Linked DNA regions of Homo sapiens: all the other regions are linked to region 4. The links come from fine-mapping of genetic effects on gene expression. A gene starts in region 4. Each other region holds a variant in brackets. All regions are shown on one strand. Distances are from middle to middle.

What was found.
Region 1: its variant is fine-mapped to the expression of CRIP2 in whole blood (TOPMed, PIP above 0.99).
Region 2: its variant is fine-mapped to the expression of CRIP2 in sigmoid colon (GTEx, PIP 0.94).
Region 3: its variant is fine-mapped to the expression of CRIP2 in whole blood (TOPMed, PIP 0.94).

Annotation. Positions count from the first base shown.
Region 1 is chr14:105,398,355-105,405,694 of GRCh38, forward strand. TEX22 (testis expressed 22) reads left to right here and starts at 184. Exons shown (of 4, transcript NM_001195082.2): 1 at 184-281; 2 at 948-1,136. The coding sequence starts at 987. RefSeq lists a silencer at 1-606 and enhancers at 274-784, 785-1,295. The variant G/A (reference allele first, on the strand shown) is at 3,598.
Region 2 is chr14:105,445,612-105,451,006 of GRCh38, forward strand. It overlaps MTA1 (metastasis associated 1), which reads left to right. Exons shown (of 21, transcript NM_004689.4): 4 at 3,748-3,798; 5 at 4,447-4,573; 6 at 4,650-4,713. Among named protein-coding and RNA genes, the nearest start is that of CRIP2, 27 kb to the right of the region's middle. RefSeq lists a silencer at 3,275-3,414. The variant T/A (reference allele first, on the strand shown) is at 2,629.
Region 3 is chr14:105,437,823-105,445,162 of GRCh38, forward strand. MTA1 (metastasis associated 1) reads left to right here. Exons shown (of 21, transcript NM_004689.4): 2 at 850-917. Among named protein-coding and RNA genes, the nearest start is that of MTA1, 22 kb to the left of the region's middle. RefSeq lists an enhancer at 1-177. The variant G/A (reference allele first, on the strand shown) is at 3,897.
Region 4 is chr14:105,471,617-105,478,956 of GRCh38, forward strand. CRIP2 (cysteine rich protein 2) reads left to right here and starts at 3,205. Exons shown (of 8, transcript NM_001312.4): 1 at 3,205-3,289; 2 at 6,650-6,744; 3 at 6,834-6,891; 4 at 7,115-7,255. The coding sequence starts at 3,247. RefSeq lists enhancers at 1-91, 1,647-2,179 and silencers at 2,208-2,257, 2,268-2,357, 2,448-2,597, 2,868-2,937, 3,118-3,227.

The sequences.
Region 1 (7,340 bases), 73 kb before region 4:
TCAGGTCTGTGCTTCGGGAGACCCCGGAGGCCGACGCCCGGAAGGGCCCGTGGGGCGGTAGCGGCCATAGACCCGGATATGCGCCGGGGACCCCCAGACCGCGCCCATCCCCCACCCGCCGCAACGGAGCCCAGAACGCAGGCGCGGCGCAGACCGGAAGCGGAACCGGTGGGGGCGGGGCTTGCCGTAGCGGACGTTCTGGAGCGAGGCGCCGGCCCCTTGGGCCCCCTCAAGCCGCGGTGTACTCCAGCGGCCCCCTGTGGCCTCTCCATCCGCGGCGGGTCTGTCCCTCCTTCTGTCTCCGGGTGCCCACGTACCCCCCACCTCCGACCGCCGTTCCCGTGTACCCCGCCCCCCCGCCGAACCCCAGAGTGCCCACGGCCTCCAGCGTGTGTCCTGAGCCTTCTTCCCCCGTCCCTCCGCGGACCCCGGCCGCGCAGACCCCGCCTCCCCACCGGAGAGGGCGGGCACGTAAGGGCTCCGGGCTGGGCCTGGGGCGAGGCCTGGGCCGCGTGGAGGGGAGGTCTCAGGGTCGGAAGCGGGGCTGTGGCAAGAGCTCTGGGCCTTTCCTTCGCCCCGGGCGTAGCAAGGCCGGGCCCTGAGAGCGTGCCCGCAGTGCTGGCTGAGGGCTGATGCCCCTGGAACGTTTGAGAAGGCTGGCAGAGGCGTGGAGTCCGTGCAGCAGGCTGCCGAAGGCTTTCCAGGCTCCCGGGGTGGGGTCGGCAGGGGCAGAGAGGACAGTTCGGGAGGCTGGTGTGGAGAAGAGCTGCGGCGGGAGCTGGGGGATCCACTCCACCCAGAGGGGTCAGTGATGCCTGACCTTTGGCTGGAAGGTGACCCTAGCAGACCGCGATACTGCCACCATCTGCCCCCAGGGACTCAGGTATTGGTGGGCACGTGGGTGGCCTTGTGGGCCCCGCCCCACCTCCCCCTGCTCCTACCCCCAGATCTCAGAGGTGTGGACAAGCAGCCTACTAGGGCTAGAGATGGACAGCAGGAAACTGTCCCCCCGGGGGAAGAAGCTGGAGTCGCACCTCTCCCAAGAGCACAGGCGGCCCCCACTGGGCCTGATAGCAGCCTGGGGCCAGCCCAGTATCCAGAGCAGCGTTCAGCAGGGACTGCAGACTCAGGACTGGGTAAGCGGAAGGAAACCCTGGCCGAGGCTACTCTCCTGTCCCCAGCCCGCCTGAGGCCGCTGTCTCTGAAAACTCCAGGCTGGTCGTGATGAGCAGCCTCAGGGGAGGGCTGAGTGGGGACTGATGAGAAACAGATGGCTGGACTCAGGAGGCTCTCTTCCCCATGGCCCTGGACGAGCACCAAGGTGGACCTGCACCCTTCTTGCTTCCAGAACCGTGGGCCGCTGGGCTCTGTAGAGAGGTCTTCCAAGGCCAGGAAGGAGGCAAGGCAACACACTTCCCTTAGCTCTCCCCAGTGCCTCCCACCCCAGGCTGAAGGTGGCAAGAAGCGGGAGGGAAAGCAAGGTCCCCAGGGGGGGTGGTGTCCTCCCAACCAGGTGGGGCAGCTGTCAGGAGAAGGATTTGTCACTGAAAGTTGACCAAAACAAAATAGTGGGAGAGGCTCTGCTGTGATTCCCCAAACTGGAAGCATCTCCTGGTCTCTCTACTGCTGGACAGTGAGCTACAGGCTTGTGTCAGGCCCAGTAGTGAGAATGGTGGGATATAGCTGTTCAGCCTTAGGACGTTCTCTGAGGGCAGAGGAAGCCAGAACCCCACTCGTGTGGTTCCACTTTTGGAAGGTTCAAAGCCAGGCTGAGAGATGGCTCTAGGCTGTGGCGAGATGGGTGCAGGGGCTCCTGGGCACTGGCAATGCTTTGGCAGCTGGCGCTGGTCATGCGGCCAGTTCAGTGTGGGGAGCTCATTGAGCCATGCACACAGGCGTGTCTGCGTGTGTTCCCAGGGCTGCCCGCTGAGGCCCCTTTGTACCCTCTCAGTCATGTCCTTCAGGCCCAAATGCTTTCAAAACCCCTATGATGGTGTCAGGTGCTGGGGAGTGGGGTGACCAAACCAGCAGATGCAGTGGCTTTTGGGAGGCGAACATCTCATGACAGGCAATCCGGACTATAAATACACATAGGTCACCTGTCTAGTGAGGGCCGCTCAGGAGGAGGGCCAGGGGGTGTGAGGCTTCTGTCCTGCACAGGGCTGGGGACAGGGCACTATGTCTGAAGGGGTAGGGATGTGGATGCAGGAGGAGTGTGTATTGGACCCATATCCAGCAAGGACACAGGGACCCAGTGGCTCTTGGGCAGGGGCAGCCAGGCTGTATTTGTAGTTCCAAGAGATGGACTGGTGGCTATGGGTAATGGTGGTTGAGGACAAGGCTGGGAGGCAGAAGAGTGGGCTGAAGGCCTCCAAGGGCAGGCGAGCAGTGGGAGAATTAGGTTGTTGGCCAAGGGTGGAAAGAGGTATGGGTGCATCTCTGCTGACGGGCAGGTTTTTAGTTTGGGGACAGGGAATCTTCCCTAAAAAATGTGGGTGCCCAGATGACTTTATAGGTGGGCACTCCCAAACAAGAAATTAGTCATCCTCATTGATGAAGCTTCACCTGCCCAGAGCCACTTCTGATATGGACCTGGTATCACCCAATACCAGTGCCAGAAGAGAACAGAGGGAGAAAAGGAAAAAGAGAAAATGATGTGCCAGTCTACCTGTGGGCATAGATTGAAAAATCCTGAGTAAGTACTAGACCAAATCCAGGAGCACCTGAAATGCAGAATTTCATAGCCGTAAGGATGGGTCCTGCACACTTCCGCCTGCCAGGAGAGCAGGCACATGTCTCTTCACAGCTCTGTCCCAGTGCTTAGGACAGTGTCTGGCACATAGTAGGTGCTCAATGAATGTATATGGAATAAATGAAGTTGTATGTAAATAAAAGAAGATTGTAACCCAAGGACAAAGGAATTTTGAAATCTGTAAATAAAGTTCAGTAACAACAGGTGGAAAATCACATGATTATCTCAATAGATGTTGAAAAGTAATACTAATAAATTCCAGTATCTTTCCTTAAGAACAAAAGAAGTCGCAGCCATAAAAAAGGATGAGTTCATGTCCTTTGTAGGGACATGGATGAAGCTGGAAACCATCATTCTCAGCAAACTATCGCAAGGACAAAAAACCAGATGCTGCATGTTCTCACTCATAGGTGGGAATTGAACAATGACAACACTTGGACACAGGAAGGGGAACATCACACACCGGGGACTCTTGTGGGGTGGGGGGAGGGGGGAGGGATAGCATTAGGAGATACACCTAATGCTAAATGACGAGTTAATGGGTGCAGCACACCAACATGGCACATGGATACATATGTAACAAACCTGCATGTTGTGCACATGTACCCTAGAACTTAAAAGTATAATTTAAAAAAAACCGAAGTATAGAAACCTGTAGGTTCTGGATAAGATGGGAAGAGATGGACATCTCCATAGCCTGACGGAGGGGAGCTCTCAAGAGCTTGCAGTGGCCACCAATGGAAGTATTTCAGATGCAAGCAGATGGATGCATGGTACCACTATGACGTCAGAAAAATCGCCAGGTGCGGTGGCTCATGCCTGTAATCCCAACAATTCAGGAGGCC[G/A]AGGCAGGCGGATCACCTGAGGTCGAGAGTTGGAGACCATCCTGGCAAATGGGATGAAACCCCGTCTCTATTAAAAATACAAAAACTAGCTGGGCATGGTGGTGGGTGCCTATAATCCCAGCTACTTGGGAGGCTGAGGCAGGAGAATTGCTTGAACCTGGGAGTTGGAGGATGCAGTGAGCCGAGATTCCGCCACCACACTCCAGCCTGGGCGACAGAGGGAGACTGTCTCAAAAAAGTAAATAAACAGTATTCTGGAAACCGAAGCCCTTATAGTAAATCAAGAAAATGAGATGTGTAAATATCTGAAAAGATGACAATCACTATTTGCATCTAATATGTTACCTACTTGGAAAATCCAATTTAAGAAACATGAGTACAGATAAAAGAGGGAGTTTGGATATGTGATCACCATTCACAACTTTTCAACACAGTAAAAAGCAGAAAATGGAATGGAAGCAAAGGATACTATTCAACTTAGCAACAGGAACTATGAAGTTCTTAGAAATAAACCTGTTATTGGCCGGGTGTGGTGGCTCACGCCTGTAATCCCAGCACTTTGGGAGGCTGGGGCGGGCAGATCACAAGGTCTGGAGATCAAGACCATCCTGGCTAACACGGTGAAACCCCGTCTCTACTAAAAAATACAAAAAAATTAGCCGGGCGTGGTGGCGGGCGCCTGTAGTCCCAGCTACTCGGGAGGCTGAGGCAGGAGAATGGCGTGAACCCGGGAGGCGGAGCTTGCAGTGAGACGAGATTGCGCTACTGCACTCCAGCCTGGGCGACAGAGCGAGACTCCGTCTCAAAAAAAAAAAAAAAAAAAGAGAAACCTGTTGTTCAATTCCTTCATGAAGAACACTTTACAATGTTACTGAATAGCATGTAGAGCTCCTGATGGAGATGGTTATCATATTGGATGGGCAGATTTCATATGTGTGTTTTTGAGACAGGGTCTTGCTCTGTCACCAGGCTGGAGTACAGTGGTATGATCACAGTGTTACTGGAAAAGGGATCTCCATCTGGACCCCAAGAGAGGGTTTTTGGATCTCATGCAGGAAGGAGTTTGAGGCGAGCTGCAGAGTGCAGTGAGAAGAGATCATTTATTGAAAGCCGCTCCACTGCAGAGCAGGGCATCCTCAACAAGCAAGCAGAGGAACAGACCTACTTTGTTTTTAGTTTTTCTTATATCGAGGTCTTATCTATGTAAAGACCAAGCTGTGCCTACGTGTGGGTGGGCTGACAGCATAACAATTTATTATTCTATTGATTAAAAGGAAACTATTTTACATTTTAGTGTGCAAGTACATTAAAGCATCACTATAATTATCTTGAAAGCATATATTATTGTGGGTGTTGGGACATCTGAACTTCCTTTTCTATGAGTTTGTCCTTGTAGGCATTACCAAGCTGCTTCCTTAGCTGTAAACATCTTAGGTCCGTGGTTGTGACCTGTAAGGAATGTGCTCTATTAGTCTCAAGGTGGAGTTGAACATAAAATGATGTTATCCTGGCTCTCCTAGACTCCTGCTTCTCTAATCACAGCTCACTACAGCCTGGACCTCCTGGACTCCAGCTATCCTCCCACCTCAGCCTCCCAAGTAGCTGGGACCACAGTGGCATGCCACCATGCCTAGCTAATTTTAAAAAAATTTTTGCAGAGATGGGGTCTTACTGTGTTGCCTGGTGTGGTCTTGAACTGGGCTCATGTGATCCTCCAGCTTTGGGGTCCCAAAGTGTTAGGATTATAGGCATGAGCCATTGCGCCCAGCCAGATTTAACGTTTTAAACATGCCAAGCTTCCCAAAAACAATTCAGTGTTTTTTAAAAAAACAGACTTCATGAATCTTGAAAATTTCATTTTAAATGTACATAGTGATTCTGGAAATGTATTACTAGTTTACTTTTTAAAAAAAATTACAGACAGGGTCTCACTATGTTACCTAGGCTGGTCTCTAACTCCTGGCCTTCCTAAGAGCTGGGATCACAGGCATGAGCCACCATACCCAGCCTTTGGCAATGTATTGGTTATCCATTGCTGCATGACAAATTTCCCCAGAGCTTAGCAACTTAAAACAGTAAGTATTTTTATCTTAGTTTCCGTAGGTCAGAAATTTGGGAGCTGCTTAGCTGGTGGCTTTGGTTTGAGATCTCTCAGGAGCTTATAGTTGAGATAGCAGTCAACACTTCAGTCATCTCAAAGCTTGAGGAAGGCTGGAGACTGCTTCCACGGCAGCTCACTCACATGACTGGCGAGTCCATGATAGGGGCTGGCAGGAGGCTCAGCTCCTTACCACGTGGATCTCCCCATAGGACAGCTTCAGTATCCTCAGTATGGGGGCTGGCTTCCCCCAGAGTGAGTGAGTGGAGAGAGTGAGCTGAAAGCTGCAATGACTTCCATGACTTAACCTTGGAAGTCACACTCCTCTCTTTCTACAGTATCCGTTTTGGATACACTGGTCATCCTATTTAGTGTGAGAGGGGACGACACAGGGGCATGGATACCAGGAGGTGAGGATCATTGGATGCCATCTTGGAGGACAGCTCTCACAGGCAGTCATTTAGTCTATACGCTTTAAGAAATTATGTACTGAGAAGCATAATAGTGAAATTGTAGAATGCCAGCGACAAAAACCTCAGAAGCAATTTGAGTGGGAAGACAGAACCTTCAAAGCAGCCACGGGAGCTCGTCACAGTAGAGCAGTAGCATGCCTGTGCTCAGGGGAAGCCATGCTCAGCCTGGAATAGCAGGCCCAGCAAAAATGGATTATACAAAGGGCTAAGTAAAGTTTTTAAATGATAAAAAAGAGAATTTGCCCCCAGCACACTCTCACCTCAGTTCTGAAGAAATGATCTCAAAGCATCATGAAAGTGATGAAAGGTCTGAAATGGATAAAGCATGAGAGGAAGTAGGAAGTGTCTGAGTAAACTGAAACTGACAGTCACTGGATGTCACTCATGCACAGAAAAGCAAGGATACAATCAATATATGTACCTGCAATGGCATAAATGTCAAGATGGTGCCTGTGAGTGGAACTAAAGTGTTCTCAGTTCCTCTGAGAAGAGGAGGGGGGTGGGCCATGGTGGCTCACACCTGTAATCCCAGCACTTTGGGAGGCCTAGGTGGGAGGATTGCTTGAGCTCAGCCTGGCAACATGGCAAAACCCCATCTCTATAAAAAAATCACAAAAAGTTAGCCAGGCATGGTGGCATGTACCTGTAGTGCCAGCTACGTGGAGGCTGAGGCAGGAGGATCACTTGTGTCTGTGAGGCGGAAACTGCAGTGAGCTGAGATTGCACCACCACACTCCAGCCTGGGCAACAGAGCCAGACCTTGACTCAAAAAAAAAAAAAGATCGAGTTGCTTGTCATCTTTGGAGTTAGATGAGTTTGCCTGCCCTCACATATTACAGCAGAAGAACAGAAGGAGATACGATGGCAGATAGAATCGCCGGTACGTCATTTAATTCAGTCAATGAAAACGGACTAAGTGTTCCAGTTAAAAGACAGACATTGTCAGAGTGGGTTGAAAACAACCAAATTCAGCGGTAGGGTTGTGAACGTGTGCAGCGGTAAGCACAGGAATATTCCAACCGCAGGGTGAAGATGGACACCAAACGGCCGTGCATCAGTTCACATTGCATTTTTCTGTCAAACAGCAAACTTACCTCGGATTTGGGAATGTGGTTGTGTGGACGCCTGTTGCGTGCAGCCGTGAGCGTGAGTCTCATAGACCTGTTCCTGAG
Region 2 (5,395 bases), 27 kb before region 4:
GTGGGGCCACCCTCTGCCCAACTCACTCTGGCGTCTCTTTTTCTCCCTTCCACAGTGGGCGGGGGTGTCCTGGCTCCGTTTCCTCGGGGGCTGGGTGAATGAAGTCCTCGCACGCCCCCCGGAGTGGTCTGTCTCTCACTGGCATCCTCTGCAAGCTTGTCATGGTGTGGCTGGGTGTGGGCATCATTGATCGAGGCTTCTTTTTCCCTTCTATGATGACTTCTGGAGACTTTCCAGGCTGGTGGGACCCTGCTGCCTGCACTTGCCAATGTCTCTCTCTTTTTAATTTTGCGGAGAGGCTTCTGTTGGGATTCTGAGTAGTGTTTTCAGGAAAGCAGTCCTCTCCTTATTCTTTACGATTCAAACCCAAGTTTAGTAACCTGGCTGGGAGGGGCTGCTGTGGCCAGCACAGCGTGTGGGAGGAAGCCACTGGCTGCATGGGAATGCCCTCAGCCTTGGGGACCCAGCTTCTCCCCCGGGAACAGGTGCTCGCAGGTGGTGGAGTCTCCTGTGCCGGGGGATGTTGACTTCAGAGCCAGGAGCCAGAGGCACCCCCACGCCCTCCACATGCTACTGACACAGGGCCTGCCGAGCTGGGCCCCACCTGCACCAGACACAGTGTGGTACCCCACTGAGGCCCTTCATGTGTCGGTGGGGGCAGGCATGAGGGGCATTTTTGGCTTCCACTCTGACACATCACCTGGGGTGGGATCTGAGCCCAGGCTGAGGCTGTGGTCTGTAGGGTGACATTTCCCAGTAGGTGAGGCATGTGACTGCCCGGGTACCCGTGTCGCTGGGGTGGGCCAAGGTCCCACCTGTAACCTCCCACGACCCCTAATGGGGTGAGGTCCAGGGACTGTGGGTTTGCGGTGGGTCGGGTGGGAGGACCCTCGCATCTTCTGCCCCGTCCCAGCGCTGTGGGTGAGGGGCAGGAAGTCAGCCCAGGCAACCTCCCCCTGCTCTGGGAGGGGCTTAGGGACAGGACAGACCATCCTGCCACCGATGCCTTGTTCCTGAGCCTTTGCTGGGAGTCGGCCAGGGCAGGCGCTTGTGGAAGGAAGGTGTCCCTTAACCCCACTGCCTTGCCCACCGGACAGCTGGGACCTTTCCTCAGCAACCAGTGGATGCGGACGTGAGCTGCCCTGGGTCAGTGCAGCTGGGCCGGGCCCCCGAGCCTGGGTCCACTCTGGACACTGGGCTGTGGGGCCTGTGGCTGGCCCAAAGGGAGCTGCCAGTTGACCATGGGCTTTCTCTGGCTTTGTGAGGAACTGGACCTCCTAGCTCTCTGCTCAGAGGAGGGGAGCGTTCAAGGTGGGGCATGGTGATCCTTGACCTCTGACCCCAAAGCCTGTGTACTCCACTGCTGCACTCGGCGGGCTCCAGGCACCAAGGAGGAGAGCTGGGGATGTTGAAGGTCCACAGGCTACACATTCTGGAGGGGTGTTTGGTGTGGCCCTTGGCCCTGCAGGTGCTGGGTGCCAGTCAGCAGCACGGCTGGCGGTTCTTAGTGTTGGAGGCTGGCCTATGTCGACTCTGCAGGGCTGGCCCGCTGGAGAAGCAGTGGTGGGGAGCGGCCTGGCTCGCTGGAGAAGCAGTGGTGGGGAGCGGGCTGGCCCGCTGGAGAAGCAGTGCCCAGGCTGAGCGGCCGCAGTGTGGCCCTGCCAGTCTGTGTGGCCTGGGGAGTCAGGCGCCACCGTTGAGTTGGGCATGTTTATGGCTGGCCCAGGGTGGATCCTGTCTCTGTCCTCTGGCACCTGGGGGCACAGTGTCCCTGCTCCAGAGAGCCTGTATCAGTGGTTTAGTGGTTTTTGAGGGTACTGTGGCCCCCTTGGCTGAGGTTCTGCTCTCAGACGCCCCAGAGGATGGCCTTTTGCTGGAAGAGCCCCAGAAGGGGACTCCAGACATAACGTGATTAGAGGTATCAGAGGGCAGGTTTTCCAGAAGGGCCTCGTTGGGGCTGATAGGACTGGGTGGAGAGCAGTGTCCCAGCTCGAGCACTGGCCCCCCCAGGTACACAGCACAGCCCCTTTGGACGGTGCTCCCTGGAAAGCTGCGTGGCGGCCCCTCTGCAGGGCGTTCCTATGAACTGAGAGCCCAGCTGCAGGGAGCAGGCGTCATGGGTGATGGGTCTGCCGCTGGTCCAGGGACTCAGAGCGCGGCCCCACTCTTGCCTGGCGGCTGGGCCTTGCGGTGATTCTGCAGGGCCCACACCCCCCGGGGTTGTGTCAATCTCCGTTTCTCCTGCTTCTCTGTGAGCTCATGGCAGCCAGGGTGAGGCCCCCAGCTGATCCCAGGGACAGGTGTGAGGACACTCTGGGAGGCCTCTGGCTCTCCCACGTCACTGCCTCCACCCAGCCCCTGCTGGGGCGTCCAGCCCACAGTGCAGGCCTCAGGGTGGAGGGTAGACACCCGCCAGGCTGCACTGTGGCCCCTGTGGCAGAGAAGCCCTCCCCCCGGCAGGGCTGTGAGCATGAAGCCTTTCTCAGGACAGAATGACAGGGAGAGGGGAACGTCCCTCCTCAGAGGAGGGCGTGGGGGCCCTGGAGACCACAGCCAAGAGTGGGAGTGAGGGCACAGCCTGGGCCTCACGCTTAGGGGTGTATCCAGGGTCTGAGGGAGGGTTCAGAG[T/A]GTGAGGGGTGCAGGGTACACTAGCCAGCCCCACCTCCTGCCTGGGTGTTTCTGCCTGTTGAGGGTCTTCTGAGGAGCTGTAGGCCCACCTCGCCCGCATCTCCGACAGGCTGCACCACAGAGCCCTGTTCTGCTGACCGGGACGCTGGTGAAATGGGAGTTTCGGAGCCGCTGTGGGCTCCTGTCCAGGCTGGGTCAGTGCTCGGATGGGGCCTGGCATAGGGCGGGCGTGAACAAAAGCCAGCCTCTGGTCTGGGGCTGGTGTGTGGGCCTCTGGGCCCTGGTGATGTCTGAGTTCAGGGTGCAGTTTGCTCGTGGGTCCCCAGAAGTGGGAGCGAGTGAGATGTGTTGGCCTGGGATGAGAGGACTGGGGCTGTCCTGGTCGGCCCTGCCCTGTTCTATGGACCGGGAGGAGGTGAGGCTCAGCCGCCAGACACCCCAGGCTTTTGAGGCCCAGATAGGGCCGGCCCAGAACAGGCCCAGCATGGCTGCTCCCAGCCTCAGTCTTAGCTGTTGGCGCCTGGGAGGGCCCAGAGGAGCCAGGACTTCCTGCAGGCACCACAAGGGGGCCGCAGAGAGCGAGCAGCCCGGCTGGCTGTGGTCCCATCTGGGGACCTTGGGCTCAGAGAGCCGGCAGGGCGCTGAGCGGGATGAGTGGCCCACTGGCGGCCGGTGCTGAGCGTGCGAGGGGCGGTGGGGAGCACCACTGCACGCCCCCATTTTGGGTGTTATAAGAACCCTACTTGGGTTCCTAGCACAGGGCAGGAATCCCCATGCTGCTGGCCGGTGCCCGGCCCCGGTCTCATCTGGACAGCCTGTTCTGGGAAGCCCCAGTGGAGTGGGGGCAGGGGTGGCCTCTGGACAGGGGCCCTCCACAGCCAGGCTTGTCTGGGCTCTTCCCAAAGAGGCTTGGCACTGGGTGGATGGGCAGCCAGAGTGGGGGGACGTCGAGGCCCAGATGATCTTCAACCGGGTGGTCTTCACGCCCCACCGGGAGGCCTGCGGCCCCCGTTCTGCCCTGCCCCCTGGCGGCACAGCCCTCGGTCCGGGCCCTGGGCAGGGAGCAGGCCGCCACCCTGTGCTGACCGTGCTGCCGGGTGCTGTCTGTCTGTTATATAGCCCTGTCAGTCTGCTATAAGGCCGGACCGGGGGCGGACAACGGCGAGGAAGGTAAGAGCCGGCCTCCGCAAGGAGGGCGTCCTCCTGTCTGTGTCCCTGGGCTGGGGGCGGCAGCGCCGCTGAGGGACAGAGTTTGGGCGGGCCGCCTGCATGCCTGTGCCCTGCGCCCGGCCGGCCCGGCTGAGGAGGGGCCCTCCCTTGTGTCCGGCCCACGGCCCAGGCTTGGTGCGGCCCCGGCCTGAGGGTGACCTGCTGGTGTGGGAGGTCTGTGGTGGGCTGTATGGGGCTGTCTGGCCACGAGATGGGGACGGACAGAGGGCGGCTGCCCCTCGCCCTCCTGGCCTGGGCTCTTGGCAGCCGCCGACTCCCCCGCTCCTCTTGCTCTTGCCTGCTGCTTCTGGGGCTGGCCCGGACCTTGTTCTCCCTCCTCCTTCCATCTTCATGCCCTGGGGAGTCTGGGCCTTTAGGGTGCCTGGACTTAAAGGGCACGTGGGCACCAGAGTGTCTGCAGGGGTACCTGCCAAGGAGCCGCCGGGCCGCCATAGGGTGGGGCAGTGGGACAGTGTCCGGCAGCAGGAGGAGGCACGCCTCCCAGGACTGGGCCTCCTGCGTGCTGGCGCCAGGTGGGGCTGGTGGGGTGGGCCTTGGTCTGGCAGTGTGCGTCTGCCGCGGTGCTGACAGGGGCTCCTTGTCCTTCAGGGGAAATAGAAGAGGAAATGGAGAACCCGGAAATGGTGGACCTGCCCGAGAAACTAAAGCACCAGCTGCGGCATCGGGAGCTGTTCCTCTCCCGGCAGCTGGAGTCTCTGCCCGCCACGCACATCAGGTAGCCCCCAGCAGCTCCCGCCCTGGGCCCCTCGGGCTGCCCTCGCCTTTCCAGCCTGCCCGTCCTTCTCTTCCAGGGGCAAGTGCAGCGTCACCCTGCTCAACGAGACCGAGTCGCTCAAGTCCTACCTGGAGCGGGAGGTGAGGCCCAGCCCGGCCTGGTCTGCCGCAGCCAGTCCCGGGCCACTGTTTCCTCTACCTATGACCTCTGCTGGCCTGGGCGGCGGAGACGATTTTCCCTCCTCCCTCTAGGCCCAGGCTGTTCTGGGGGGAAGCGGGGATTGCGTCCTGACTGTCACTTCCAGGTGTCCTGGTGTGTGGCCGCCCCCACCCTACGCGTCCAGAGTTGTGGGCCAGGAGCTTGGAGCTCTTTCCTCTTGCCACTGCCACCCAGACAGCCAGCGAGGGGAGGTCCCCCTGGGGAGGGTGTGGCTGAGGCAGGTGGGGGCAGGGGCCACCTGAGTCTTCGCAGGAGTCTTGGCTGGTCTCTCCTGGGCGGTGGGCAGAGTCCTGGTAGGCCCACCTTGGGGGTCACTGTGATTATACGGTGTTACCAGGTGATTCTTATCTGGGGGTCACCTGTGATTATACGGTGTTAACCTGCCGTATAGCATCCCCCAAGGCGTGACAACCAAAAAATGTGTCCCGACAATGCCATACATCCCTGGGGAGCAGTGTCGCCTGACGGAGAGCGGTGGCACTGAGGCTGCTGTGAGATCCAGCGAACGGGAGGGTTGGGTTTTCTGAGGCCACGTGGGGGCAAAAGCGTCTGGAGTGTGTTGGTTCCCTGGAGTGCCTGTCACAGTTGCGGGGCACACCTGCC
Region 3 (7,340 bases), 34 kb before region 4:
CTGCGGTGGCCCCAGGAGGCCTGGAGCATCGGGGTGTCAGCACCACCAGCCTGGACTTCCCTGGGCCTTCCAGGGTAAGCCTCTGGGCTCCGGAAGGTTCCGTGGCTCTCTGTCTGTGGAGCTGGTGAGAAGGCTGGAGGGCCAGATGGTTTCATCGCTGAGGGAAGCGCTGTACTCACCTGATGGCCGATCTTGGGGCACTCCCAGTGCCTGCTGCCTGTTGCTGTCCCTGAGCTCTGGTGAGCTCTGGTATTCCTGTCATTCCTGGAGCAACTCTGTCCTGTTTTTGAGCCTGCCTGGGCCCAGGAAGCCCCAACTGTGTTCTCTGTGTAGTCACTGCTGTTGGTTTTGGAGGGAAAGATGGGGGCCGCTGTGGGCAGGGCTGGTGGCTGGTGGTGGCCACGTGGCTCTGGGGGTGTAGCATCCAGGCTGGCTGCTGCCAGTGGGAAGGTGTCCTGGGGCTCCCGGCAGGGTCTGGGCAGTGCTGGAGCTGGGCTTTGCCTGGGAAGCTGCCGCCTGGCCCCCACAGCTTCCCCAAGAAGGGCCTGAGCCCTTGGGGGCAGCTGGCGTCTGTGAGGATCCGGGATGGGGGCTGTCTGCTCCTGCTGGGAACGGCCCCTCCAGATGCATCTCCCTGTCCCTGACCCAGCCTGTCAGTCCATTTTGGTTGCAGCCACCCCTCCCTGATGGTGTGGGGGCTTCGCTTCCTCTGTTTATTCCTCGCCTGAGGGAGCAGAGGTGAGGGGATGACACTGCCCCGCCTGAGCCCCGAGTCCCTGGGCCACGGGAGGTGGGACTGGGTCTGGCCTTTGGTGCCACAGGTGGCACTCTCTCTGTTGCTGTTTGCAGACTACGTCTACTTTGAGAACTCCTCCAGCAACCCATACCTGATCCGGAGAATCGAGGAGCTCAACAAGGTACTGGGGGGCCCTGGTGTTGCTGCAGGGGGGTAGTGGGTGGGGGCTACGCCAGCTCCTGCCCTGTGGGTGGCCAGTGTGGGTGGCCCCCTTTCGGGGCTGATCTTGGACTGGCCACTGCACAGGCCCTTCAGTGACTCCGTCCACTGTCACCTGCACCGTGGCTCCTCCTTGGAGATACTGAGTGAGGGGCCTGGTGGCCTCATGCAGGACCCAGCGCAGCTGCCCTGAGCTGCCTGCCCACTCTACACTTGGTCTGTGGGTGCTGGGTCCCCTGAAGATGCCAGTGTCCCCTGGGGAGCCCGAGCGGAATGGTGTGATTCTGAAACCAACCAAAGGCTGCAGAAAGCCATACTCGGTGCCCCTGCCCTGCCCGAACCCTGGCAGCCAGCCCTGCAGGGCTGTGAGCTCTGCCCCCACCCCTGAGGTGTCTGCATGGCTGGAAGCACCCTCCCTGGTCACTCAGGCAGCCCTGCAGGGCTGTGAGCTCTGCCCCCAACCCTGAGGTGTCTGCGTGGCTGGAAGCGCCCTCCCTGGTCACTCAGGCAGCCCTTGCTCCCACCTGGTTTGTGTCTGCCATGAGTCCTTGGCAGTTGCTTGCTGTTTGGTCGGGGGACGTGGTTGTGCCCATGCATTGAGCCTGGCAGCACCAGATCCTTCCTGGGGGGTGGTGACACATGGGCCCCTCAGCCCCAGCCACTCCTGGCCTCCACTGCCTCGGCACAGCCTCCGTCCCATCAGCTCGGGAGACAGAGCCGTAGATGGCCATGGAGGTGTAGGGCGCCCGCACACCCTGGGAGCCTTCTCGCTGTCCTCAGGGGTGGTGGGTGGGTCCCCCAGCGTCCCTTCTCCTCCTCCTGGTTGGAGACTTTCTAAGGGTGTTGAGGGAGGGCAGGTTGTCCCCACCAGTGGACACATGGTTCCAGCAGAGAGTGGGGTGGGGTGCTGGGTGCTTCACAGACCTCTCTGTGCCTGCCTGCAGGGCTCCTGAGCCCCCGATCCCCTGGAGCCAGTGGCCCGATGGCTGCCTTCTCCTAGGAGCCCTGCCCACTCGGCAGGCCTGGGGCACTCGGGCCCTTGGTGTTCCATCTGGATGCTGCAGGCTCACCTGGGAGAAGCTGCCTTCCTGGACCTCAGGCTTGGTGGCAGCGGTGACGTGGGGTTCTTGGGATCAGAGGGGGCAGCGGGGGGAAGGTTAGCGCGCCACCTCTGACGTAGCCATGCTGGGCTCCGGGCTTCCCTGGCTGCGCTTGTCGAGGGCCATTCCCTGCGGTATCTGCCACCACCTGGGGCCGAGGAGCATGGGGTGCGACATCTGCTCCCCCGCAGCTTCCTGGGAGGTCTGAGGGCCAGGCCTGTTTGTTGGAGGCACAGGCAATGACCTGGGTGTCTTCTGAGTCTGCCTCACTGCCCCTGCTGGGCAGGGCCTGCCCGCCTGCAGAGCAAGGCCACTTGGGTACTGCCGGAATGGGGCGCCACTCCTGTGGCTGAGCCTCCTGAGTGCGGGGCAGCACTTTACGCATCCCAGCATGTGGACTGTAGGGAAACAGGTGCAGAGGGAGGTTCCTCAGCTGACGCTGAACCATGGCTGGGGGAGGTCCTGTGTCCCTCCTGGTCTGTGTAGTGGAGGGGCGGCCGGCAGATGGCACTGCTGGCCCCACACAGCCAGCTGGCAGGCAACCCGGGGCGGGAGGCTGCAGTGCCTCCGTGGGCGCCTGGCCGAGTGCCACTGCTGGGAGGTGCCACTGTCAGGAAGGTTCCCTCGTGCTGCTTCCGGCTTCCATGTGCAGACAGTAGATTGCAGGCGTGTGCAGGCAGGGGGCTGGCTTCCAGCCCTTGGGCGATGTTCAGTTACACATGTAGCATTGCACACGCTCAGAGGCGTCCCCTTCGTCCTAGGACTCCCTCCTCCTCAGGGCCAGGGCCACATGGCGTGGGCACTTGCCTGTCTCTGGGCGGGACACCAGCCTGTGAGGGGCACGACTACTCTCTTGGACTGTTCAGGCAGGGCAGCCGAGCCAGACGCTCACCATGTGGAAAAGAACCCGCAGGCCTGCGACAGAGTGCGGCCAGTGCCCTCCACGCCAAGGAGCTCCAGGCGGGGCTTCCAGGTGGGCGCAGCTGGTTGAGTACAGACCTCCCCTCTGTTCCCTGGACTGAACGCCCCCTCAAATAACAAGAAAGTGGTGCTGGGGCTCTGCACCCACAGGGCAAGGAAGGTGGGAGAGGCGGTGCCACTGGGAGGTATGGGCACAGCTTGGAAGGCAGCCAGGCAGACTGGGCAACCTGAGAGGCCCTGGCCCTGGCCTGGGTCAGGATGGGGAGAACAGGAACCATGGTGACATGTGGCTGGCAGCGCGGAAGGCCTGTCTGGGGGGTCAGGTGGTCCCACAGAGCCCTTCCCTGGGCTGGAGCAGTGGACTCAGAGGACCCAGATTTGGGGCACCAGACCCAGGCCAGCACAGTTCGTGCGGGGGCTGGAAGTGGGGATCGCCTGGCTCATGGCCTGTCCCCTGGTGGGCCCCCCCGCCCCTCTTGCCTCCTTGGCTCCCAGGACCCTAGCGGCCAGACTTCTAAAGCCCACAGACCCAGCTGCTGGCATCGGGGACCCAGCAGAATGCCCGCTACCCCAGCACCCATGGGTGCAGCCCATGCAGCGAGCTGCCCAGCACCGGGGAGGCTCCCAGGGATGAAAAGCCGCAAGGCGTATGGGGCGGGGCGGGGGGGCTTTTAACAGGAAGGTCAGCCAGCACATGTAAAAATTGAACTCAGAGGCTGGACGCAGGGGCTCACGCCTGGAATCCCAGCACTTTGAGAGGCCGAGGCGGGCGGATCACAAGATCAGGAGATCGAGACCATCCTGGCTAATACGGTGAAACTCCGTCTCTACTAAAAATACAAAAAATTAGCCGGGCGTGGTGGCGGGCGCCTGTGATCCCAGCTACTCGGGAGGCTGAGGCAGGAGAATGGCGTGAACCC[G/A]GGAGGTGGAGCTTGCAGTGAGCCGAGATCCCGCCACTACACTCCAGCCTGGGCGACAGAGCGAGACTCTGTCTCAAAAAAATAAAAAAGTAAAAAAGGAACTCAGAGGAAGGGCCAGTGCAGGGAACAGAAGGAAACTAAAGCAAAACAAAGCCCGTGAATGTTCTCTGAGAAATGGATGGGATCCATCCTGGGATGTGGTCAGATGAGAGGAAAGCTCTTGACACTTGGGTTAGGAGAAGTAGCAAATGAAATGAAAGGATCAGGTGATAAAGTTGAGGATACCGCACAGAAGATGGGGCAAAAACACAAAGAAACTAGGAGAGAAAAAAATCAGACATCAGTCCATTGGTCCAACGTCCAGTTAATAGCAGAGAAGGAGCGAGCAAAGCAATAAAGAGGGGCCCCTTCAAGGTGTATTTAAAATTTTAGAACACGGGAGAAGAAATGTGTTTAGAGAAAAAGTGGGTCACACACGAAGCACCGGAGTCAAAACCCACTTTGCCTTTCGGCAGCCGCGTTCAGGTGTGGAGGCTCCACGCCCAGCCAAGCTCCATCTCCCGGAAGGCAGATGAGTGAGGTTTCCTGACTGAGGCCTTGGAGTGCACTCCTCCGCGCCTTTCCAACACGAGGGAGGCGCAGGTTCCTCCCGCCCAGGAAGATGCGGCCCCTGGTGCAGGCAGCAAGCAGGGTGGACCCCAGCTCTGGGAGGGGCCTCGCAGGCGCCCTGATATGAGCCCTTTCTCTTTGGGAGCTCTGCTGCCGAGCACTTTAGGGAAGAATCTGTGATGATTCCATGAAAAACTAGGCAAGTGGAGAAAAAAGACGATTGTTAATCTCAGGAAGCAAAGGTGTTCGAAGGAAGAGAAGAAAGAATGGCCTAGTGTGGCCTCACCGCCTTTACCTGTGTGTGCAGGAGCGTCTCAGAACAGACCCCGAGTGTGACTGAGTCCGCTGTGTGCAGGAACACAACACAACAGAACAGACCCCGAGTGTGACTGAGTCCGCTGTGTGCAGGAACACAGCAGAACACAACAGACCCCGAGTGTGACTGAGTCCGCTGTGTGCAGGAACACAACACAACAGAACAGACCCCGAGTGTGACTGAGTCCACTGTGTGCAGGAACACAGCAGAACAGACCTTGAGCGTCATGGAATGCACACAGTGATCCTGGAGGGTGGGGTGCATGTGTGGCAATGGGAGGCCTGGCCTGAGGCGCTGAGCTGGTGGGAACCTGAATGCGGAAGAGCCTGGCCCCACGGTCCCAGCTGCCCGGGTGGGGTGGCTGCGGTCATGTGTTCTTGCAGGGTTCATGGCTCGCTGAGACATTGGATGGTCTGTGTGTGTCACTGTGATCAGATGTGGATGTAACCCCACTGCGGTGGAGCCTGTCAGGGACACAGGAGCCAACAAAGCGAGAACCCGGCGGCCAGGGTAGGGACAGCTCGACCTGCAGGAGGGTCAGGCCACATTGGATCATGACTTGAAGCAGAGCATGGTGGTCCCTGGGTTCACACCACCATAGTGAGCAGATACAGATGCGAAGGGGAGAGGAGATGCACGTCCCAAACAGAGGAATTCCACCCTCGAGAACGCCCGGCTCCCGGCAGGCTGTGCAGAGCAACTGAGCACTTTTCTCTTTATTCTTTCTTTTTTGTTGTTGCTTTTTTGAAACAAGGTCTTGCTCTTTTGCTCAGACCAGAGTGCAGTGGCACGATCTCAACTCATTGCAGCCTTGACCTCCCAGGCCCAAGTGATCCTCTCACCTCAGCCTCCCAAGTAGCTGGGACTACAGGCGCACACCACTGCATCTGGTTAATTTTTAAAACACATTTTATAGAGATGAGGTTTCACCATGTTGCCCAGGCTGGTCTTGAACTCCTGGGAGTGAGCCACTGCCCCCAACCCATTTATAACATTAAACCAAATTATCTTTAAGAAAAGTGGCCAGGTGCCTTGGCTTACTCCTGTAATCCTAGCACTCTGGGAGGCCAAGGCGGGCAGATTGCTGGAGTCCAGGAGTTCAAGATTAGCCTGAGCAATGTGGTGAAACCCCGTCTCTACAAAAAATTTAAAAATTAGCCAGGTTGGCTGGGTGCGGTGGCTCATGCCTGTAATCCCAGCACTTTGGGAGGCTGAGGCGGGTGGGTCACGAGGTCAGGAGATAGAGACCATCCTGGCCAACATGGTAAAACCCCGTCTCTACTAAAAATACAAAAATGAGCCGGTGTGGTGGTGGGTGCCTATAGTTCCAGCTACTCAGGAGGCTGAGGCAGGAGAATCGCTTGAACCCGGGAGGTGGAGGTTGCAGTGAGCTGAGATCGCACCACTGCCCTCCAGCCTGGGCGACAGAGTGAGACTCCATCTAAAAAGGCCGGGTGCGGTGGCTCACGCCTGTAACCCCAGCACTTTGAGAGACCAAGACGGGCGGATCACGAGGTCAGGAGATCGAGGCCATCCTGGCTAACACGGTGAAACCCAGTCTCTACTAAAAAATACAAAAAAATTAGCCGGGCGTGGTGGTGGGCGCCTGTAGTCCCAGCTACTCGGGAGGCTGAGGCAGGAGAATGGCGTGAACCCAGGAGGCGGAGCTTGCAGTGAGCCGAGATTGCACCACTGCACTCCAGCCTGGGCGACAGAGCAAGACTCTGTCTCAAAAAAAAAGCCAGGCATGGTGTAATTGGACTGTGGTCCTGGGAGATGGAGGCTGCAGTGACCTGACATCACACTGCTGCATTCTAGTCTGGGCAACAGAGTGAGACCCTATCTCAAAAAATTAAAAAGTTAGGTGAGGCTGGGTGCTGTTTACACCTGTAATCCCAGCACTTTGTGGGGCTGAGGCAGGCAGATTGCTTGAGGTCAGGGGTTCCAGACCAGCCTGGCCAACATGGCAAAACCCTGTCTCTACTGAAAATACAAAAATTAGCTGGTCGTGGTGGCTCACGCTTGTAATCTCAGCTACCTGGGAGGCTGAGGCAGGAGAATCACTTGAACCCAGGAGGCAGAGGTTGCAGTGAGCCAAGATCACAACACTGCACTCCAGCCTGGGCGACAGAGTGAGACCCCATCTTAAAAAAAAAAAAAAAAAGAGTTATAAATAGTATTCCATTAGGCACTTGCACTGTGATTAGAATTACAGCACAATTCTTGCAGTAGCAAAGATGTTATAAAAACTCGTTCAGAAAACATACGTGCTTCTCTGGTGGCGTTTTACAGCCGTCTTGACTTGGAGACGTTTGTCAGCCAGGCCAGGTGGGAGGGCTGGTCCCATGCGGGGGGTCCAGGCTGCGTCCGCCGCTAGGGCCGTGGCTGCTGTGCAGGTCACCCCAGAGGGGCTGGGATAGCTGGGCGTGGCCTCCCAGGAGCTGACTGAGGTCCTACCCAGTGTGGCGGGGGCCTTTTCCTCCTTGGGACCCTGCTGTTCTCAGGTGGTACACTGGGGT
Region 4 (7,340 bases):
GAGCCTGTGCTGGGGCCCAGCAGTGACAGGACTAGGTGTCAGGGACTCGGCTGCAGTGCACGTCCCACCCACCCTCCCTGGGCTGTGGCGCCCCCCCACCCAACCCCAGCCCCCACCAGCCAACTCTAATCTGCAGCCAGCATCCGAGTGACCCCACAGCCTGAGGACTTGCCTGTAGTGCGTCATCAGACGGCTGGGAAATCAGGCCCCTGACCTCATGAAGGACACAGCTCCCTCTGAGGCCTTTTCCAACCCTGGGGGTCTGGAGCTCAGTGAAGACCCCAGCTCCCTTGTCTCCCTTCCCCAGGCCTCGGGCTTGCCTCCCAGTGCTGGCTGCAGGGTTCTGGCCTCAGCAGCTCTTCCACCCCCCAGGGCCTGTCCTTTTCTGGAGTCAACATGTGGGCTGTGAGGTGTCCTAGGTCCTGGGCTCTATCCCAAGGGCAGGGAGGCCCTGAGGAGATGTGGGGCCCTTTCCCACCCCAGACACCCTCCCCGGCCAGACACCCAGGCTGCAGTGCCCTCACAGGGCCAAGCTCTGGCCACCGGTGCTGGGTGGGGCCTGGGCTGCTTGTGGGTCTAAACCTGGGCTTAGAAGTGAGTGGGTACCGGCTGGGGGGAGCATTGGCCTTGGTGCCCAGGCCATGAAGGGGTCTCCCAGCTTTGCTATGTCCTCGTTAGGCCCTTCCCTGCTGATGAGACAGCAGCCTGCTTTCTGCACCAGCAACCCCACAGGGGCCGCGGCTCCCCAGGGCCAGGGGCATCTCAGGGTGGCAAGGCCATCATGCTGTCATGCCTGGAGACCTGTCCTGCCAGCTCCGCTCCACCCTGCTAGGGTCCTCTGTCCACCACTCAGCCCAGCCTGGCTTCCCTGCAGTGGAGCTGAGTAGCAGGGGCCTGCTATCTGCCAGTGTCACAGGATGGCGGAAGGGACCAGACCACTGCAGCCCAGGGGTGTGACCCAGCCCCATGCCCAGCCATCAGCCCTGCCAGCTCCCTTCACACCCGCCGTGTCCTGTGCCCCCCTCTCCACTCGGGCCCGTCCCACTGTGTCACTGCCCCTGCCTGTGACCCACCGCAGCCTCAGAGGTGGAGACCAAGGCCACTGCTCTGCACCCATTGATCCTGACCCCTGCCTGCCAGGCCCAGAATAGCCCCGTCGCATTAGGGAGCTTCTGGCCGCTGCCCAGGGACTGCGGCTGGGGTGAGGGCAGTGCAGCAGCTGGCACACTCCTTGTCCCACCCCACCCTCCGTGTGTCTCCAGGGCACCTGGCCAGTGCCGAATGCCATTCCTTTGCTGCCACCCTGGGAGGGGCCTGCCTCTACCCCCATCCACTCTTCTGGCAGGGCTGGGGACCTTGGGGCAGGTGGTCTCCCTCCAGAAGAGCCCTGTGTTCAGCCAGCCCTGTCCTCCAGAGCAAGCCCCACAGGTAGCAAGCCCCACAGGTAGCAAAGTCAGGGAGGGTAATGGCTTAGCCCCAGGCTCCCAAGCTGGGCAGAACAGGGCAGGGAGCTGGAGAGGGTTTGGCAGTGGGCCCATGAATCCAGCCTGGGCAAGGCCCTGCTGTGAGGGACCCCTAGGGACCCCTGGGCCTGCCAGGGAGGAAGGGCTGCCCAGAAAAGGTACTGACTGATGCCTCCTCACCATCTTCTGCCTTGGCTGGCACAGGTCCCAAGTGCAGAGGGGGAGCTGGTCAGGCTGGTCAGTCGGGCGGGGGGGCGGGGGGCATGTTTCTGGCCTGCTGTCACCATGGAAATGGCAGTGGCTGCAGGGTGTGTGTGCAAGGGAGGAGGGTGCTGCCACAGAGAGCCCAGCCAGGACCACCATGAAAGCCAGGAGCACCGAGGGCCTCTGGTTGGCTCACAAACATGCCTGGTGCACCAGGCAGAGGGAACAGGTAGGTCTCCGTGTCCAGCCCACAGCCTCCAAGACACAGGGGGAAGGGTGTCCAGAGTCAGCTGCCCCCATAGGGCCTGATCACTGGGCTTCTGGGATCTGCCTGTCTCCCAGGCCGACGCTCAGCTGGGGCCAGAAGGCTCAGAGAAGGGCCCATGGGGACAGAGCACCAGGAAGCCCGTGGGTGCGGAGGTTCCCCACCTGGGGCCAGGCTCTACGGGGCTCTAGGGCGGAGGCACTGTGGTGAGGCGTGGTCAGGCACGCCCTGGTTGGGAGGAGGCCAGAGTGGGGGTGTGGGGGTGCGGTGACTGGCATGACCCCTCAATCTCCCGCCTGACCCCTCGAGGTCAGGCCCTGGGCCCCCAGGCACGCAGCTGGTCCTGGGCGGTGCGGGAGAAGGGACTGGAGTGTCAGCCCCAGCCCGGGGCACAGAGGGCACGCCCACTCCTTCCCCTCCTTCCCTTCCTAACTCCTCACCGCCTCCCCGGCCGCCCCCTGGGTGGAAGTGCTTGGGGTGGACGCCTTAAGCGCGGATCCCTCGGCGCTGGTGCCCGCCGCCCCTTCCCTGCCTGGGAGGCAGACGCAGACCTCCCCACACCCCCTACCAGCAGCTTCTCGAGCTGTTTCTGGAGGTGGCGGCGCCTTCCTTCCTGAGCCCTGCCCTCCACCCAAGGAGCCTTCAGCACCACAGACAGTGTTGGGGCGGGGCGCGGGCGGGGGCGGAGCGGGACATGGAGACCCGGACAGGGCTGGGGGCCGTGCCCGCCGGGAATCTGACTCCGCTCCCGCGGCGCGGCTGTTGCTATGGAAACCGAGCAACAAAGGGAAGCGGGACAGGCGCCGCGCGCGGCGGGGTGGGGGTGGGGTTCTCCCGGAGCCTGCGACCCCTTCCCGCGGCGGAGCGCAGCCTGGGCGCCCAGGGCCGGGAGTGTTGGACCCCTAGGCCCAAGTCACTAGGGCTCCCCGAGAGCCGAGGGCCAGGCTCCCCGCACCCTGCCCGCCGCCCCGGGGACGGCCCGGCCAGGCGGCCCCGACGTCGCCATGGAAACAGCCGGGGCGCGGGCGGCGCCGCGGTCGCCCGGGCGGGCCCCTGTAGACGCCACCTCCGGCGCGAGGGGCCCGGGGGCGCCAGGCCTGGCCCGGCTGCCCCGCACCCGCCACCCCCGGCAGGTGCGCCCCGCCCCCGCGGCGCCCCCAGGCGGCCCCCAGCCCGGGGGACGGGTTATCGAGGCCCCGCCCCGGCCGCGGAGCCAATGGGCGCGCGGACAGCCGGGCAGGCGGGGCTGGGCGCGGGCGGCGGCGGCCCGGAGGAGAACGGGCGGAGGGCGCGGGCCGACCGGGCGCACCGACCATGGCCTCCAAATGCCCCAAGTGCGACAAGACCGTGTACTTCGGTGAGTGCGTGCCCGCTCCCGGCCCGCTCGGTGCATCCCGCCGCCCTTCGCGGCCAGTCCCGCGCCGCAGAGCCGCGGCGTAACTCGGGGTGCGCCCGGCCCCGGCCCCGGACCGAGGATGCGCGTCCCGGAGGCTGGCTGGCCGCGCTGCCCAAGCGGCTAAAGCCAAAGGGTGGGGCTGCGCGAAAGCGGGGGCGGTCACGCCCGAACCCCGAAGCGGCTTGTGGGGGCGGGGCAGGGACCACCCGGGCGGGGCTTGTGGTGCCCCGGGATGAGGCCAGTGTTTGGGGGAGCGCTCGGGGATCCGCGGACGCATCCCGGTTCCTCGGACGGCGCCGGGCGGGGCGGGGCAGGGCGTGGCTGTACGCCCCGGGTGCGTCCCGCGCGCTCCCGTGGGCCTGGGCCCTTTCTCCTGGACCCCCTACACCCGCTTCCCCCGGGAACAAGTGGCCGGGAACAGTGACCCCCAGCTCCCACTCCGGGCTCCGCTGAGCTGGGCTGGGCCAGGTTTGGACTCTGTCGGGATTCAGTCCAAGCGGGGGCGACCTTGGCCTCTGCCTCCTGCTTGTCCCGACGCATTCCCTTGGCGCCAGTTCCCCCAGGAGTTTCACACGGGGGTAGGGTGGGGGCGGGTGTGACACGCGAGTTCCCGCGAACGTGAGAGGGACCTTGTGCTCAAGCAGCCCAGGTGTCCAGGATCCCTGCCTCCTCAAGGTCAGAACAGCCCTGGACAGGATGCAGGTGGTGGCGGGAAGAGGGATGTCTCGCAAGGCGGCCCTCGGTCTAGCCCCTCCGGCAGGCGCGCTCCCCCCGTCTGGGCTTACTCACTCTCTGGGCCTGGGTGCGCCCTTCCTACCCCCTTCCTCCTGGCTGATTCGCTGCCCAGCTTTCTCCAGGGTGGTAAGGTCCCTGCCCACCTACCCACCAGCTGCTGCACGAAGGGGGGCAGACTTAGTGAAGCAGAGAGGAGGGCCGGGACCAACAGGGCGCCTGCCCTGGTCGCCCCATACCCAGAATGCGGCCAGGCTGCAGGGAAGGCCGCCACTGGGCTTCCCCGGCTCACAGGCTGGAGGGGGTTGAGGGGAGGTTGTATTTTGCCCGTCCCAGAGGGGAGGGACCGGATTTGGCCTGGAGTGCTTCTGGCGTGGCTGGGAGCCGAGGGGCTTCCGGCTGCCTCTCCTGGAGCCCGCTCAGCCCTCAGTCTCTGTCCCAGCGAGGGCTGTCTCTGTAAGGCTTAGGGTGGGAGACGGTCCCCAGGGCCCTTCTGCAGTCCAACTGCCCATGACTTTACCCCAGGCCGGGCCAGGCCAGCCTGGGGCTCTCCAGGGTCTCGGCCAACAGTCCTGTGGACAGCCCGGAAAGGCCTGCCTGCCTGGCCCGCCCAGCCTCTCAGCGGAAAACAAAGGCGCTTCAGACCCGGCTGGCTTCTGTCCTGCCTGGGAGGCACTGTGAGGGCGAGGGTCCAGAATCCTGCCCACCCTCACACCAGGCTGCCCCCGCAGCTCATACCTGAGTAGAACCCAGGCTGGGATGTCGGAGCACATTGAGGAGGCCACCCCAGAGCCCATGCAGCCAGGGTGGGCAGCTGGTTTTCTTCTGAGCCATTAGACCCAATCGATTCTGTGTTCCCAACTCGGACCCGTAATGTGTGGCCATTGACCCACCCAGTGGGTCTGAGGGCCAGTTCCCTGCCCCCACTTGGCCCACGTCCCAGAGCTGGCCAGAGCACAGTGCTGGCAGCCCTGGGCTGCAGCTGCCACGGCCGATAGCCACCGAGACTTCCTTGCTGCTGCTGGGACACGCCTGCCCACCGTGCAGCCAGCCCCTGCCTGCCCTGGTGTGTCCCAGCTTCCTTGAGTGGAGTGGTTCTGGTCAGAGGGCTCTAAGCTGGTGCAGCCTTGTGGTTGGGCTGGTGTCCTGGAGGCTGGCCCTGGCCATGCCCAGAGGGTTGTACCAGGGCCACGGAGAGCCAGTATTCACAGCCCTCTACCTAGTAGGCCACCTGGGGGATCCCATCTCACTGCCAGGAGCAGCACCCTTGGGCCTCTCAGAGTGGGCTTCGCCCTAGCCAGATGCCCCTCCCCGATATCTGCCAGACAAAGGGGGCTGGGCCACTTGCTGAGAAAGGGAGCTGGGAGAGCCACTGGTCCTCGGCCACCTGAGGGGCTTGGCCAGATTCTGCCGGGCAGGGTGGGCCCAGCCTGCATGCTCCCTCCCCCCAGGGCCTGCAGCTTGTCCCCTTCCCTTCAGAATTCCGGCTCTGCTGGGCCCTTCCTGCCCCTCCCCACCTCTTCCTGCCTGGCTCCCTAGGGAGGCCCCTGCTTCCATCCACTGGGAAGCAGTCCAGTAGCCCCAGTGTGGGGGTGGGAGGCAGTGGCAGAGGGTCCCGGACCCTCAGCAGCTGCCCTCAGATCTTCCATGCCAGTGGCAGCCAGGGGCATTACGGCGGGGGGAGAGCTCAGGGTTTAGGACGAGGAATCCACAGACAGATGAGGGTCCCGCCTGGAGGACCCACGGGGACGGGGCCTGGCCTTCCCATGAGGGAGCTGGAGGTTCTGGGGCTGCACCTTTGACTCAGCAGCGGGGTGCTGCCAGCCCCATCAGGGCCCAGTTGGTGGGGATCAGGGGCGTGTCAGTGCGAGGCAGGTGTGAGAGGGAGAGCAGCATGTGTTGAAGCAGGTGCACTGCAGAGGCAGGTGTGTGAGTGTAAGAGAAGTGTTTGAGGGAATGACAGGTGGGGGAGATGCATATGTGTGGGGGGAGGCAGGTGTGTGGGGGGAAGCGGGTGTGTGTCTGAGGAAGCGGGTGTGTGTGGGGGGAAGCGGGTGTGTGGAGGCGGGCGTGTGGGGGAGGCGGGTGTGTGTGTGAGAGGAAGGTGTGTGGGAGGAGGCAGATTTGTGGGGGGAGGCGGGCGTGTGGGGGAGGCGGGTGTGAGGCGGGTGTCCGGGAGGCAGGTGTTGGAGCGCGGGCAGGTGTTGGAGCGCGGGCAGGTGTTGGAGCGCGGGCAGGTGTTGGAGCGCGGGCAGGTGTTGGAGCGCGGGCAGGCTCGAGCACAGGCCCCTTCACCGCAGGCACTGAGGGGACTAACAGGGCAGCCCCGGGCCCCTTCTCAAAGGCGGCTCTAGCGGGGTTCCAGGGCTGGGGGCGCTGAGACCCAGAGGGAGAACAGGGCCTGGGGGCGACGGGCTCCTCCGGGTCTCAGAAGGAGGGGCAGGGCCCGCCAGGTGGAAGGAAGGCGCCTGGGAGACCTCCTGAAAGTGGGGACCCCCGGAGCGCGTGGGGGTGGTGGCTGCCAGGTGGGGGCGGAGGGGGTGCGGGGCGCGCCCCGGCCCTGACCCCCCTGCCGCCCCTCCCGCTCAGCCGAGAAGGTGAGCTCCCTGGGGAAGGACTGGCACAAGTTCTGCCTCAAGTGCGAGCGCTGCAGCAAGACGCTGACGCCCGGGGGCCACGCCGAGGTGAGCCCCACTGCGCGGCGCGGGCGGGGGCGGGGGTCGCGACTCCCGCCACCCTCAGGCAGGGTCCTGACCCGCGCCCCTCTGCGCAGCATGACGGGAAGCCGTTCTGCCACAAGCCGTGCTACGCCACCCTGTTCGGACCCAAAGGTGAGCTCCGGCTGCCCTCGGCCTGCCCTGGGACCTGCTGGGAGGGGCGTGGCGCTGGCGCTGGGGAGGGCTGGGGGTCCCGGCCGCCGTGGATCCCCGCCCAGAGTCCCTGCCACCCTGGAAAGCCTAGTGCCCCCCAGTCCCCAGCGGGCCGTTTTCTGAGATGCCCGGTGGCCGCGGCCCCCACCCCACGTACCCCCGCCCCACGTACCCCCACCCGCAGGCGTGAACATCGGGGGCGCGGGCTCCTACATCTACGAGAAGCCCCTGGCGGAGGGGCCGCAGGTCACCGGCCCCATCGAGGTCCCCGCGGCCCGAGCAGAGGAGCGGAAGGCGAGCGGCCCCCCGAAGGGGCCCAGCAGAGGTGGGCTGGGCGCGGGCTGGGGCTGGGGGTTGTGGGCACGCGCGGGCTGGGGCTGGGGGTTGTGGGCACCCCCGGCCCCGCCCCG